Homo sapiens: one gene and its partners. The protein of the gene in region 2 interacts with the protein of the main gene of each other region in a biochemical or structural test. Each region holds a gene or a part of one and is shown on either strand. Other genes may lie near its edges. The genes, in order: GDF2, ACVR2A and BMP7.

The links.
Region 1: the proteins of ACVR2A (region 2) and GDF2 form a complex in vitro, tested with the Homo sapiens proteins (2 studies listed by BioGRID).
Region 3: the proteins of ACVR2A (region 2) and BMP7 are reported together in a solved structure, tested with the Homo sapiens proteins (2 studies listed by BioGRID, with this or other methods).

Annotation. Positions count from the first base shown.
Region 1 is NC_000010.11:47,325,391-47,328,179, reverse strand, and holds the end of GDF2 (growth/differentiation factor 2 preproprotein), read right to left. Parts: coding exon 2,396-2,789; 3' UTR 592-2,395; downstream 1-591. UniProt on the Homo sapiens protein: Potent circulating inhibitor of angiogenesis. Signals through the type I activin receptor ACVRL1 but not other Alks. Signaling through SMAD1 in endothelial cells requires TGF-beta coreceptor endoglin/ENG.
Region 2 is NC_000002.12:147,910,921-147,914,674, reverse strand, and holds part of ACVR2A (activin receptor type-2A isoform 1 precursor), read right to left. Parts: intron 1-3,754. UniProt on the Homo sapiens protein: On ligand binding, forms a receptor complex consisting of two type II and two type I transmembrane serine/threonine kinases.
Region 3 is NC_000020.11:57,224,944-57,228,697, forward strand, and holds part of BMP7 (bone morphogenetic protein 7 preproprotein), read right to left. Parts: intron 3,479-3,754; coding exon 3,286-3,478; intron 1-3,285. UniProt on the Homo sapiens protein: Growth factor of the TGF-beta superfamily that plays important role in various biological processes, including embryogenesis, hematopoiesis, neurogenesis and skeletal morphogenesis.

The DNA of each region.
Region 1 (2,789 bases), on a different chromosome or scaffold from region 2:
CACATCACTCACACCAGTGTGCACACACACCACTCACCCCAGTGTGCACACACATCACTCACTCCAGTGTGCACACACATTACTCACCCCAATGTGTGCACACATCACTCACCCCAGTGTGCACACACATCACTCACTCCAGTGTGCACACACATCACTCCAGTGTGCACATCACGTCACTCACCCCAATGTGTGCACACATCACTCACACCAGTGTGCACATCACATCACTCACCCCAGTGTGCACACACATCACTCACCCCAGTGCGCACACACATCACTCACTGCAGTGTGCACACATATTACCCCAGTGTGCACACACTGCATCACTCACTCCAGTGTGCACACACATTACTCACCCCAGTGTGCAAACACATCACTCACCCCAATGTGCACACACCACATCACTCACCCCAGTGTGCAGACACCACCCACCTGCATCCACCCAGTCCTGAGATGGCTGCCTGCCCCTCCCCTCTGCCTCCTTAGGAAGGGGAGGCCCAACCCAGTGGGGTCTGGAGGGTGGGGTAGGCAGGGTATGAGTCTATAGGGTCCTCCAGATTGGGTCTCACATTCAGGAGGGGCTGCAAATTAGACATTTGACTTTATTTCCGAGTGAAATTTTCAAGCAGGCACAGAAGCACACCACCAGGACTGAAAGAAGATGCTCAACACCCAACTTGGAATAGCATTGTAACACTACACTGCCCGGCATGTAGCAGGAATTCATATTTTCTATAACGCCAGTAATTAAACAAGAATGTTTCGTTGTATTTGTGTGTTAAAGTTGTTCATTGGTTCCATGTAAACATTTAACATAACGTTTTCCCCACCCCCCACTTTTTCTTAAATAAATGGGAGCTTCAACCACGGGGAGAGGCCCTGGCCTCTCTAAGCCTCCCCTAGGCCCTGCTCTGGCTGGAGGTCAGAGGGCCATAGGTGCACTCTTCACCACTTTCAGACTCTTCCTCATACCGCCCCGTTCCATGTGTGGCCTGGAGAGACAGAGGAGAGGGTGAAACACAGAGCAAATGGAAGCCTTATCTTCCCTTGTGTTCGGGGAGGCTGAGTCTGGTCCCACAGTCCGAGCCCAGGCGGGGTGCTGGGATGCACGTGACTCAAGAGAGCCGGCAAATGCAGGCAGAGCCAGTGATAGCCGATAAGGACTGCAGCTCTTCCGAGGCTGGAGAGGCCTCGCCCAGGAAGGCTGGAGTCTTGTCACTTAAGGACATGTCACCAAGGAATAAAAATAGATATGTTTCAAAGACCAAAGCCAGAGCACATTTAATTCCAACAAATTCAAATCCAGGCCCGTCTCCCATGAGGTTGTCACTGGGGGGCACCCTGGGCATGGCATGCTGGTGAGCTGGCTATGCAGAGTAACTGCAGAGGTGCTGGCCACAGGCTGCCCCATCCCTCAGGGGAAAGTGTGCCCGGCCCTCTCAAATGGTCACATGGTTTCAGTCTATGGACAGTGAATGGCCCTGTGTGCACCACTGGCCGTGGGAGCACTGCACCAGGGGGTCACAATAACTCCAGCCACAGTGTATCATGCAGCCCACAGGGCTGCTGTCCTGACCTCTCTCTCTATCCTGCAGTTGGCCTGGGGTTATTTTTCAGTGCCTCAGGGGTCATATTAAAAAGCATGTGGCCGCTGAGTGAGCACTGGCAACAGTGGCCAGACCACGCCCTGTGTGTGACAAGCAGCCCAGTCACACCTGTGACTGATGGGCCTCAGCCTGGCCTGGCCTCAACACTCCTGGGCTCCCAATGTCTCACTGCTCTTTAGCTGGAGAGGACCTGCTAAACTGCAGCAGGGCACTTGGGAAGATCCTGGGCTTTGGTGTCCCACAAATCTGAGTTGGAATCATGCCATTGATCAATGCTACTTGATCTGCCTGTGTTTTATGTCTCTAAATTGGAAGCCATGCCCCTCCAACTGGGTTGTGGGAAATAACATACAATGATGGGTGTGACACGCGGCCTGCTCCTTCCCTCTACTCCCCAAGGGTTTTGGAGCGAGCTGGCCTCCTCCACCTCTCTAACTTCCATCAGTCTCTGCAGTGACCTGCCCGCCTGTGCTCCTCTGGCTCACTGCTGTTGTTTTCTGCTGACTATGGATTATTTTTCCCCCTGTCTCCTTTTCATCACCTCCTTGCATCCCAACAACCCTCCCAGGCTTTCCTGTTGTGCTCAAATCCCCATTTCCTTAGCCTTCCCTGGCAGTTGAGCTCAGCGGTGTATGCTTTGGGTGGGGTGTGGGGAGGGAGAGCAGGCTCCCTTTCCTCCTCCAGGCTGGCATGCAGATTGAATCAGTCCTTGTTGTGCCCAGGGGCATGCAGGACCTCTCATGTGGAGCCCCTTTGGCCTGCCTCCCCAGCCCCGCAGGCAGATACTACCTGCACCCACACTCTGCCACGCTCATGCCCTCGTAATGGTACTTGAGGGTGGGCACCCCCATGTCATCCTTGTAGAGGACGGAGATGGGGCTCAGTTTGGTGGGCACACAGCAGGCCTTGCCCACCTTTGTGGGGAACTTGAGATGCACCAGGGTCTGCACGATAGCGTGTTTCGTCGGCGTCACATCGTCAGCCAAGGGGAAGAAGCAGCCGCCCTTACACTCGTAGGCTTCATACTCCTTGGGTGCAATGATCCAGCTGTCCCAGCCGATGTCCTCGAAGTTTACCCGCAGGGAGGTCTTTTGACAGTGGCTGCCAGCCCCGGCGCTCCTTTTCCGCCTGGCTAAAGTCGACCCCGCAGCCACGTGGCCATCCGTGTCCTCCTCGTGA
Region 2 (3,754 bases):
GGTATATCAAATACAAAGCACATACAGGAAATATGTAAGTAAATATTTCTTTAACCAAACTGGTTCATTCTAATTTTAAACATATTAACAATTCATCCCTTTGATCTGAGATAAAAAATCATTTGTGTTCTGGAACTGACTGACTGGCAAAGAAGTACGAATAAAAATCCAGAAAAGAAGTGGTCATCATAGTAGATAACAGGATATGGTAAATGAAAGAAACGTGCACTGCTATAGTTTTTTAAAAATAGAGCAAACATAATATATAAATAGGAATACAGCATCTACAAATCACAAGGAAATCCTATCAAAGCAGAATGCAACCCTCCATTGAAAGCATTCTCTCAGTTCCCTATCTGCAACTAAAGCAAGATGCAGGAAGCCTTTTGGAAAGCTTCCAGAGAAAAGCAACAGAAGGGTTTGGAGGGCTGCATAATGAGTATTTTGAGGAGGAACTAAAATTTCTGTGGCAAAAGCAACTGATATGATGACACTGGGTGGCACCTCAGACACTTGGAAATGGTATGTGATCCCAGATCAATGCATCCTCTCTGCCTTTCTTTTTCTCTCTTCTTCTAATGCCTCAAAGACAGTTAGTGCTTTCTTTAGGCATCACTCAGCTCACTGGTGCCACTCAGGAGTTTTAAAAGTTTACTGTGTACTAGAAAGAACCTCAGCAACAGAAACATTGCAAGGTGTTATGTAGGAAAAACATGCAATTTCTTCTTCTAAATGAAACCATCTTTATAAAATGGCTTTAGAATTCCTGTTTAAACAGTAAGATAAAACAAAAGACTTCTTGTGACTCATTTCAAACTCAGACTTTTTTTTTTTTTTTTTTTTTTTTTTTTTGTCTACAAGTTGCTTGTCCTTCCCACATTCAAAACATGAAAGAACGTTTCTGTTTAGCAGAGTGACGGGTCAAGGAGGTCAGATATAAATCTTATAGGAAGGATGGGCTCTCAAGTGTGATTCTCAGTGGAGGGGACACAAGAACCTCTAGAGAGTTTTTATTAAAAACTACACCCTCCCTCCCTCATTCTTCAAGTGATCACCTCTATCCGAGAAATTCTACTGATCAGAGCAGACTGCTTATATGAATGTGGAGACAAGAGAAAAAAAGCTTGAAAACAACTCTTCTACAGGAAAGGAAACCATTCAGTCCTCAAGGGCAAAGAGTTATTGTATAACTGCATAAAGACATATTTAAACTAAATAGAAAATGTTAGAAAGGTAGAGAGATAGGTTTCAAACCAGAGGGGATGCCAAAAACTAAAAACTAAAGTATACAGAAAATGGCTGAAAGCTGAAGAGGAAAAATAACTAGGTAGAGGGAATACAGTGCTAAATTACAATATTAAGATTTTTAATAGCTTTTATGTACACTGGTAATGTCTCTATAGTTAATCTACACATTACCCATTCTCTGTTCTAAAGGACATCAACAACATGAATATGATTCAGTCTGTAAGATATAGATTATTTAATCCACAATTAATATGTCAGCAATTCAAACTATGATTTTAGTATAACATTAATTTTAGAAAAAATAATTTTTAATATCTACATTAAAAAAAAAAGTTCATTAAATGTTTTCCAAATGCATATACTTCAAGTTCCCATACATTCCCAAGGCTCTGTTTAACAAGTTTCTAAGCTATCATTATTTCAGAAAGAAATAATCTTAGATCACCCTCCTACTATAATTTATTCAATATTGTATAGTAACAGCCAGAACAAATATTGTTGTCAAAATTACTTAAAAGGTAAAAGCTTCAATTAGAAAGAATACTGGTCAATTTCGAAAGGGTGACAAAAAGGTCTACAAGGTCTTCCTGTAGAATCTCAAAACCTTTAGCAATGACATGAGCTTTTCAAAAATGGAATTTTAAATAATATTCTTTAATACACAAAGGATTGGGTTCAAAAATGATAACTGTAGGACAGATTATAAAATCTCTAATCCTTTTTAAATAAAAAATTACTAGAATGAAACTTTAAATTCATCTGTAAGTTTCACTCATCCTATAATAGTAGAAATGATTTTCAATTAATTGGCATCATTATAGTAATTTATTCACAAAAAAATCAATACTTGATTCTAAAAATAAAAATGTATACCTTTAAAATATATGAGCCCCTGGGAAGACAAATGTAGACATAAATTTCAAAATGACAAGCAATTTCTGATGTCATACACAAAATATGGCTTTACCTGGCTACATAGAGAAACCAATGGGGAGCTGAGAGGCACCTAGAAGGATTTCAGAATTCCTAAAAACTTCCCTAAATTTCCAGTTCTCTTACAACATCCATGCTATTTTGCAAAACTAAAAAGATATGCATTCAAACACAGTTCTGATTACATTTCTTCTTTACTCATTTATATGTAAAAATTATGGTATCAGAAGACATCAGCTTCAGAACACATACTGAAATGATAACCTGGTAAAAAGTAATCTCCTGCCCCCAAACCACTACCCAATATCATTACTATAACCAACAGTGGAATAAATTATTAGAGGTGGGAAGCTACAAAGTCATCTCTGATCATTTTACTTATTCTGAGTTCTCCATTTGAAGGGTGAATTTTAATCTAATTAAACGCTTAAACCTCAGATAGCAAAATATCATCAAAAGTTATACTCCTGTAGCTAGTTCATTTGCTAAAGATGCCAAAGATGAAGCTATCTAAAAATATCTATTTCACATTTAAATACAATGGGCTGGATTAGAAAATCGACCCCTGTTAAAAATGAACACATGCTGACATTTAAGCTAATGACATATAAAAATTAACCAATACAAGGTTTTTGAGGCGAATGGAGCCGTTAAGGTGTTAACTTCTAATCAAGTAAAACGGTTTTTTCTACATCCTACCTTAAATAAATATAAATACTCTCAGTCTCTTAAAACTAAAAGCCATTCCTAAGTCAAATCAATCACATTTTAATTATAAAAGCTGGGTGAGGGAGAACCCTTTATGACATAAATATATAAATTATAGAGGATGCACAGTAAAGCAGTAACAACAACAAAAATCTAAGAACAAAATGTTTAGTATGCATCCACAGAAAGTTCCACAACCATAAAACAAACATCAATGCATCTTACCTCTATCATTATATGAAAGGCGTGCTTGTGAAGAAAAAACACAGGCAAAAGAAATTACGATTCATATCCAGAATGAAATGAAAAATGACACATCAGTTACAAAAGTGAAGGAAAGAGAATAATGGTTTAGTATTTTAAAAGTTGGCAATGATCCAAAGTTTTACATTGTTTAAATAAAGATAGGGAACACTTTCCTTACAAACAGAGGAAAGTAATATCAAAAAGAACCCCTTAGATATGAGAGATAGGTGGTAAACAAATTCTTGACTCCAGTTTAATCCCAAGTTAACTGATCCAATGACTTCATGCCTGCAAACAAACTAAATCAAGTCTTAAATAATGATTATTTATTTTTCTAAGAGCCTCTAGAGTCTAAATTATAAAACAAGGAATTTACAAATTGGAATTGCCTTCTCGACACTAGAGGGCAGTATTGCCTTTAGCAAAAACGAGCTAGCAGCCCTAACAAATTTATATATAGCTAGAAATCAGTTTCTCAGACTTTCTGATAGTTGTCTTAAGAACCTCTAGAATTTCCTATTTCCTGAACTGCCTCACTTCCCTTTCATGGAAGACAGAATCATAATGGTGAGACAGAAAAATGTTTCTGGTGGCTATGTGCGTGCACCATAATACACCA
Region 3 (3,754 bases), on a different chromosome or scaffold from region 2:
GGAGAGACGCTGAGGCTGACCCAAAGCCGGCTAATCCTCGGCACCCCCGGGGCTTTCCTGGAGCTCAGGCACAGCTCGTCAGATGTCCCAGCCCTGCACAGCTGGGCAGCTGGCGGCACAGAGACAGAGGCAGCCACATGGCGGGGACAGCAGGGCAGGCTCTGGGCTCCCCCGGGCTGAGGTCTGCAGGAGGCCTTCAGCTGGAAGAAGCTGTGCGGGCCCAGGTTGGGGACATGCAACCAGGTTGGGGACATGCAAAGAAAAAGCCTATCTCTGAACAGGCGAGCTGGAGGAAGCGTGGGGGATTTGAAGAGCATTTGCAAGCTCAGGGCTTTGTTCCTACTGGAAGATTGCAGAATTAGGGGAATTGGCTCGGTGGACCTACATGGGAAGGCAGTGCCACAGCCACCACCCAGGGCTCTTGTCTTCCTAAAGAGGTCTTGCTCCACTTCCTGCTGTGATGATGATGATACTAACGCAGGTGACCATTTATTGAGCACTTCCTGTGTGTAAGACACTGTTGTAAGTATGTCACCCCCTTTCATCCACAGCACAACTCTGGGAGGGAGATTCAATTATTATCCCCATTTTACAGAGGGAAAAACTGAGGCTCTGAGAGATGACTCTTTCCCAAGGCCACATGGGTAGCTGGTGGCAGGATTTGAATCCATGCTCTTAATAGCTGGGGAATTACATCATAGGGGCATCTTGGTTCTAGGTTGAAAAACAAAACAACCTGTCCAGAAAAATGAATAAATAATATATTTTTTAAATTTAACCATTTAACTTCTGAAGAATGGAGGCTTTGCTGCAGGAGGCACAGGAAGAACATGTAGAAACCTAAAGAAAGCAGCTCCGTCTTGCCCTCCACTGCTTCTCACCCTATTCCCTTCCTTGCTCAATGCTCCCACCTGCCATGTCCTCTCCTCTGCTGGAACGTGAGCTTCCAGAGGGCAGGGACTCGTGTCTGGTTCGTTCTGGTCGATGCCCTCAGGCATGGCATGCAGCAGGTACCTGTGCTGAGGAGGGACTCAGTCACTCAGCAGCCCAGAAGCCCCCAGGAGCAGGACCCCAGCACTAGAATGGGCACCCCCAGCCCAAGTTGCCTGTTGCCGGCAGCCTGGCAGGGAGGACGCCTGGAACGCCCATCCCTCCTCCAAACACAGTGCTCAGGCCTGCTGCCCAACCCTGCAGCCCTCAGGATCCACCCCATGGATCTCAGGCAAGACAGCAGAGGCACCACAGACCATGATGGGACCAGGTGCCCACAAAGCCAGCAGGAAGGACCAAGAGCTGCCGGAGCTGAGTGGAGAATCCAGATAACAGCCTGGACACAGAGGCTGTGGTTTCATCCTAAGCAAGAAGCTCCCTGGCTGCTGGGAGTAGATGTCGATGTCACCTCCCAGGAGAGCTGCTCAGCAGTGTCTACCAAAGCCACCCATGTGTGGGCCCTCTGACCCCACAATTCTATCTCTAGAACTTTATCTGACTGATAGACATGAACACGTATGTCAGCGAGGGTACTTGCCCTGCGGCACCATCCATCATAGAACAGAGGAGCCAGCGTGCACACGTGAAACACAGCACAACCCAAGCCGTGGAACAGTGAGGTGACTCAGAGGATGAGGGCACCCCGTGTGAACCCCTGGAAAGGGCTGCCAAGGTTCATCATCCAACGATGAAAGCCAGAGGCAGGAGTGAGTGCACTGTGGGGTTCCACAGGTGAAAACAGCAACACAGATTCCTTCGCTGATTTCAGGAGACTCAAGAAACTGGCATCAGGGACCACCTCAGCAGGGGCTGGAAGCCTTCATTTTCACTGTGGTTCCTCTTCTTTCCTTTTGATTTTATACCATGAACATGTCTTGCCTACTCAAAAACTTTTTTTTTTTTTTTTTTTTGAGAAAGAGTCTCACTCTGTCACCCAGGCTGGAGTGCGGTGGCACCATCTCGGCTCACTGCAACCTTCTCCTCCTGGGTTCAAGCAATTCTCCTGCCTCAGCCTCCCAAGTAGCTGGGATTACAGGCGCCCGCCACCATGCCTGGCTAATTTTTCTATTTTTAGTAGAGACGGGGTTTCACCGTGTTGGCCAGGCTGGTCTCAAACTCCTGACCTCAAATGATCCACCTGCCTTGGCCTTCCAAAGTGCTGGGATTACAGGCGTGAGCTACCACACCCGGCCTAAAAACAAATTTTGGAAAGAAATATCTTTCATAAGCATGGGCTCCAGCTTTGCAAACCTGGGCTCACGTCCTAATGTGGCCACATTCTCTCTGGGTAGCCTCATTCTTTGGCTTCAGGTCACTTTAGTTCTCCTCATTTTACAGATAAGCCACCACTTCTGAAGGCTACTGTGAATATGAAACAAGATATCAAGTGCAAAACACTCTGGAAACGCTCAAGAACAGTTTTGTTTTCTTGGTACTTAGATGACCATCCCCACCCCCACCCCCCACCAGCACCAAATAGCAGTGCTTGGCAAACGTAGCTGTGATGGTTCTTCTGTCCCTGTCTATGGTAACAAGTCCCCTTTCTAGCTGAAGATGCTAAGCCTGCACATCACAAGGAGGTGCCCACACCACCTTTCTTCCATCAATTTCCCTGCCCAGTGGGGACGGTAGATGTCTGACAGCCTGCGGGGTCCAGCAACCCAGCCACTGAGTAATAGGACCTTGGTCATTTCTGCCTCGGGACTGTCTGAATAGAATGCACCTGCTAAATGTCCCAGCCCTTTTTCTTAGCCTCCTTACCTCTCACAAGACCTTGAAATTAATGGATCTCGATAAATTAAAGACTTTCAACACAAACGTTTGGTTTCTGACCTAGTGATTCTTGGAAGGCTAAGAGTTCTCTGTTTTTTTTGGTTTGGGTTTTTTTCTTCCCCTAACATTTTATTTTAGATGGCCACCTTAATTGGTTGCCTGACATCGTGCACTGGGTTTCAGAGTGAGAAACGGGAGAGAGGTAGCCCTTCAAAAATGTTTCTTCCCCTTCCCCTTTTCTTCTATGTCCCTTAGCACCCAGCCAGATCTAGACTGCCTATAAAAACCCACAAGGCACCACGCATCCCTGGGCTCCCTGGCCTTCTACTATTCCTGAATTTGTTGTCGGTCATGGTTTTAAGGAAGTGACATACACCATACACCTTCTTTAGAAGGGATAATCTGGTACAGGGCCTGGCACGTGGTTGTGCCAATCTGACCCATCCTCTGGCCCTCACCACCTTCTTCCTCTGCCCCCAGAGGAAACTCAGCACCTCTCCCAGATACCCGTATAGCACCCACCTGCCCAAGTGCTCCTGGAGCACCTGATAAACGCTGATCCGGAACGTCTCATTGTCGAAGCGTTCCCGGATGTAGTCCTTGTAGATCCGGAATTCGGCTGCCGTGACAGCTTCCCCTTCTGGGATCTTGGAAAGATCAAACCGGAACTCTCGATGGTGGTAGCGTGGGTGGAAGAATTCCTTGTCATGTTCCACTGGAAGAGGAAGAGAACACACACCAACACCGACAGCTCATTAGTGTCTGGGTTTCACTCTCTGGCTCTGAGTCCAAGCATCTTGCCTAAGCTAGATGGAGGCATGCCCATTGCCAGTGACCCCAGTGACAACTGCTCCTTCCTCACCAACACACTGTAGACTGGAGGGTCACAGGCTCAGACCCCATGGTCCCCATGGTCATCCTGAACGACAAGAGCATGATTCTGCATCCAACCTGCTGGGAAAAGTAGGGCACTAACCACAGCCATCCAAGA